Linked DNA regions of Homo sapiens: region 1 is linked to region 2. Evidence: fine-mapped expression QTL. Tissue or cell type: whole blood. Region 2 holds a variant in brackets; the other region holds the start of a gene. All regions are shown on one strand. Distances are between the middles of the regions.

Region 1 (2,680 bases), 100 kb before region 2:
TGGGCATAGTGCCTGCCAATCAATGCTTCCAGAATGTACAAAGGTGCTTCCTGATGGCATCCCATCATAGTGTCTTCCACCACAGCCTTAGCTTTCCTGGAGGGGAAAGTGGCTTGTAAACTTGCCAAAGTGGGATGCATTGTTATAATTACCATTATGATTGTTCTGGGTGTCTATTACCAATTCTACAGGTGCTGGCTCTTACAAGCCAACCCATTATGAGGTAGACAGGGGATTTATCCTGCAGAGCCCACAGGGTCGTCTGCTCTAGACTGAGCCTGCAGACATCTTCCATCCCAGGGCCAAAGGGTAAGGGCCAGGGTTTCAGGTTCACCAAACTGCAGCCCTGGTCCCTTCGTTTAGTGTGAGGAGGGGCACCAGTATGATGAGTGGTTAGTAATGGGTGCAAAGCGGGTGGGGGGATGCCTGGGTATGAGGGCTCCTCTTCCTGGGTCTAGCTCTGGCTCCAACACCTACCAGCTGTGCTACTTGAGCTAATCTCTCAGACCTCAGTTTTACGCTATAAAATGAGGACAATGATGGTGTCAAGTGCATAGAGCTATTATGAGTATTAAAATTCATCAACAAAGATTTTTGTGTAGCTTCTATGTGCTAGGAACAGGGTTCCCATCCTAGCTAGCCACCTGCTGAGACTGAAACCCTGAGCCTCCATTTCTTCCTCTTTGGCCTGCACAGGTCCAGGTTGCTGCTATGGCTGGCTGGGCACCTCCTCCTGCCTCCATTCGCCCTAGGCCTCATTCCCACCTCCCACAGCCTGAACTCATGCCCCTTCTTTGGACTACTCAGCTTGTAGCTGCCACACTCTGTCTGCATTATGTGTGTGGACATTGACTATTACTGGCAGGCCTGGCCACAGAGCCTAGGCCAAGGATTTACTAGTTTGGTCCTTGTCTAGCTCACACTAACCACCTCTCCTTTTTTTTTTTTTTTTTTTTTTTTTTTTTTTTTTTGAGGCAGGGTCTCCGTCTATTGCCCAGGATCCAGGATAGAGTGCAGTGGTGTGATCAAAACACACTGCAGCCTCGACCTTCTGGGCTCAAGTGATCCTCCCGCCTCCGCCTCCCAAAGCAGGGATTCCAGGCGTGAGCCGCCGCTCCCGGCCTCACCTGGCCTTCTTTGTTGGGCTAGGTGGGGACTGGGAAATGCACAGGGCCACTTTCAAATCAAAGTCAGAAGCACTTTGCTCGCTCCACAGAGTCCTCAGTGCTCTGCTGAAAGCAAGGAGGCTTTTTCCAAGGCTCTAGTTTTGCCTCCAGGGAAACTGAGGCACAAGGCAGCAATGATTACTGAGGGTCCTGCCTCCGCTCCTCTAGGTGAGGAGCCTATTCCAGGGGCTCCAGTCTGAAAGCCTAGAGGCGAGGGGCGCGCACTACAATTCCCAGAGGTCCCCGGACTCAAGGGCGGTCCCCGCCCCCCGCCTTCTCCGCGCGACGAAGCCGGGCTTACCAATGGGAGCCCGGAGTGGGGCGAGCAGGGGCGGGACGGGGCGGGACTGCGGGGAGGTGGCCGGCGGGCCGCGCCGCGAGCCAGTATCTCAGAGAGCGCGGGGTCCGGACAGCCGCGCGCTGAGGGTCTCGGGGCGGGCGCCGCGGGACCTCTCCGGGCCATGGGTAAGCGGCTCTGCGGCGCGGCCCGGACAGGGGCTCGGCGGCCCTGCAGGGAGGTTCAAGGTGCCGGCGCCGGGTCCCCTCCAGCCCTCGTGGCAGTCGGTGCGCTGTGTGGGGCGGAGAGGGGCCCGGGGTGGGTTTCGGGGCGCGGGCCAAGGGGAGCGAGCCCGGCCCGCGGCTTCAGCGCTCCCCGGCCGGCGCGGAAGGGGTGAGGCTGGGCGTCCGCGCGAGCTTCGAGAAAAGGAAAGACAAAAAGTTTTGGCGGCCAGGGGCTTCCCGGGCGTTTATCTCGAAACTCTTTTCGCCGTCTCTTGCCTGAAATATGCCGAGCCCGGTACGGCTCTGTCGTCCCACTTCCTGCTGCGGTTTCCACCTCGAGCTGGGCTCAGCTAATTTGTTGTGACAGCTGTCGGCAGCCGCCCCTCCGCCCCGTGACATCCCGCAGGTTTCAGAACCGCGGCGCCGCCGGGCACAGACTCCGGGTCCAGAGCGCGCGGCCCTTTCCTCTGCGGCCGCCGTTTCCTGAAAGGGGCTGCGCGGGTGTGAAGAACTTGCTCAATGCGCTTTGTAGGATCCACTGTTCCTCTTTCGGCCGCGGGCTGCGCCGATGGTCCGGGGAGCCCGGCTTCTCGCCCCCTGCCCCTTCCTTCTCTTCCCTTTTCTCTTTTCCTCTCCTGTCTCTCCGCCCACCCGCCGCAGCCCCACAGGAGAGGGGTCGCTTCCCTGGTTGCTCTCCTCTCCTGTCCCTTGTGTGTCCCCTTGTCTTCCCTCGGTCTGCAGAAGGGACGGGGTGGCGGCTGGGGAGCGTCAGGGGAAGAGGGCAAGAGCGTGGGCTACGAGCTTGCAGGCGATGCCCGGCTTCGCGCTCGGCGGGAGCTGCGGGCCAACCCGGGCCCGCGCTCCGTCCCTCCGCGGTGTCTAGGGGTCGCCCGGGCTGGGGTCGCGTCACCCTCCGCCCAGCGCCGGCGTGGTGGGGCTTGCGCGGTGCAGGACCCCCGAGGGCCCAGGGGGTCCCAAGGCGCTGCGGGTCCAGTGTCCCTTTGTTTGCAGAG
Region 2 (2,680 bases):
CATGGTTCAAGATGATAAATCTCACCCGGGATCTGTGGCTCATGCCTATAATCCCAGTACTTTGGGAGGCCAAGGTGGGAAGATTGCTTGAGCCCAAGAGTTCAAGACTAGCCTGCACAAAACAGTGAGACTTCGTTTCTATTTAAAAAAAGAAATGGCCGGGTGCGGTGGCTCACGCCTGTAATCCCAGCACTTTGGGAGGCTGAGGAGGGTGGATCACGAGTTCAGGAGTACAAAACCAGCCTGGCCAACATAGCGAAATCCTGTCTCTACTAAAAATACAAAAATTAGCCAGGTGTGGTGGCGCATGCCTGTAATCCCGGCTACTCGGGAGGCTGAGGTGGGAGAATCTCTCAAACTCAGGAGGCAGAGGTTGCGGTGAGCCAAAATCGCGCCATTGCACTCCAGCCTGGGCGACACAGCAAGACTCTGTCTCAAAAAAAAAAAAAAGATAGGTACAGACATGCAAACACTCGAAACATTCAGAAAGCCACTCAAAGCTGTGTTCCACAAAGATGAGAGGGTAAACTGAGAAGACGGAAGGCATAGGATCGGGGAAGCAGGGTCTAACACAAGAAGCAGACGAGGAATTCTGAAGGTGATGGCAAAGAGTATCCCAGGACAATAGCTATGCTGCAGGACTGGGGACCACTAGTCTCAGCTGGGGGAGAAGAGAAGACCAGGAGGGAGAGCCCCGGGGAAAACAATAAAACTGGGAAAATGCCTCATAGATTTGAAAAAATCAAGGAATGCTATTTAAAAGTGCTGTTTAGAAATATGGAGCTTAAGGCCATAGAAATTATCACAAATAGAGCAGCCCCTGCCCCACCTCTCCCTACCCTTAACTTTGTCTCCTGGGCGCTTGTTTGGGGCCAGGGTTCTGCTATTTCTCTACTTATATTCCCATTCCCACTAAAAACAGATTTGTATCTTTTCTCTGCCCCTTCCTTTCCTCAGCACACCACGTTTATCATTTTGTTTCATTCTTTGCCAATTTAAGAGGTGATAAATGGTATCTTATCCCATTTATTTGCTTATTAATGAGTTTTTTGTTTTGTTTTGTTTTTGTTTTTTTGAGACAGAGTCTCTCTCTGTCGCCCAGGCTGGAGTGCAGTAGCGTGATCTCGGCTCACTGCAACCTCCACCTCCCTGGTTCAAGCGATTCTCCTGCCTCAGCCTCCCGAGTAGCTGAGACCACAGGCGTGTGCCACCATGCTCGGATAATTTTTTGTATTTTTAGTAGAGACGGGGTTTCAC[T/C]GTGTTAGCCCGGATGGTCTCGATCTCCTGACCTCGTGATCCGCCCGCCTTGGCCTCCCAAAGTGCTGGGATTACAGGCGTGAGCCACCGTGCCCAGTGAGTTTGATTTTTTTTTTTTACATCTTTTTTGGCTTTTGAAACCAATTTGGCAAAGTCATAAATTGTATTTCATTGTATTTCTTTGATTATTAACAAGACTGAGGGTTTTTTAAAAAAAATTTTTTTTTGTCATTTTGGGCAATTATCTGATAGGAGCTTTGCCTTTGTTTTCCTTTGGGATAGTCATCCTTTTCTTATTAAGAGCTTGCTCTATAAACATTTATTAAATAAACTGTTGGACATTAAGTATATTGAAAATGTTTTCCCTGCTTTGATATTTGTCTTCTAGCTTTAAGGCATAATTTCTACATAGGAATTTTTTATTTAATACAGTCAAATCTGTCAGCTTTTCACTTACAGGGTCTTTTGTGTCACGCTTACTTTGAAAAGCCATTCACAAAGCGAAAAGCACTGTGTTGTGTTTAGATTTCAAGAAAAACTTCCAAGAAGCACTTTTTTTTTTAATCTGCTGCACTAGAAAGCAATCAGCACCCTGATCACTGACCCAGCGTTTCAGTCTTTGAATCCATTCATCTCTTAGACTGCGTGGTACGCTTACTGCTAAGTAGTTGTTTCATTAACTAATAGATTGTTCTTAAACATTGTTTTTTTTTTTTTTTTTTTTTTTTTTGAGACAGTCTTGCTCTGTGGCCAGGCTTGTGTGCAGTGGCGTGATCTCGGCTCACTGCAACCTCCGCCTCCCAGGTTCAAGCGATTCCCCTGCCTCAGCTCCGGAGTAGCTGGGACTACAGGCGCGCAATACCATGCCCGGCTAATTTTTTGTATTTTAGTAGGGACGGGGTTTCACCATGTTGGCCAAGATGATCTTGATCTCCTGATCTCGTGATCCGGCCGCCTTAACCTCCCAAAGATCTGGGATTACAGGCTACAGGCGTAAGCCACCACGCCCGGCCTTTTTTTTTTTTTTTTTGAGACAGAGTCTCGCTGTGTTGCCAAGGTTGGAGTGCAGTGGTGCAATCTTGGCTCACTGTGACCTCCACCTCCCAGGTTCAAGCGATTCCCCTGCCTCAGCCTCCCAAGTAGCTGGGATTGCTGGCACGTGCCACCACGCCCAGCTAATTTTTGTATTTTTAGTAGAGATGGGGTTTTGCTATGTTGGCCAGGCTGTTCCCGAACTTCTGGCCTCAAGTGATCCGTCCACCTTGGCCTCCCAAAGTGCTGGGATTACAGGCATGAGCCACCAATCCCAGCATTTAAATATTCATTAGTTTTCATTCTAACTATTGGATAAGATGTAATTTATACGATGTTCAACCCTAAAGCCTAAAAAGCCTTGCTGTGGACAATAAGAATAGGTGCCCCA

Evidence for each region. PIP is the estimated chance that this variant, and not a neighbour inherited with it, causes the effect.
Region 1: it holds the start of ARID5A, and the variant in region 2 is fine-mapped to the expression of ARID5A in whole blood (TOPMed, PIP 0.99).

What each region holds. Positions count from the first base shown.
Region 1 is chr2:96,535,200-96,537,879 of GRCh38, forward strand. ARID5A (AT-rich interaction domain 5A) reads left to right here and starts at 1,553. Exons shown (of 7, transcript NM_212481.3): 1 at 1,553-1,631. The coding sequence starts at 1,628. RefSeq lists silencers at 1,472-1,831, 2,512-2,680.
Region 2 is chr2:96,639,221-96,641,900 of GRCh38, forward strand. No RefSeq gene overlaps it. Among named protein-coding and RNA genes, the nearest start is that of FER1L5, 2.2 kb to the right of the region's middle. The variant T/C (reference allele first, on the strand shown) is at 1,258.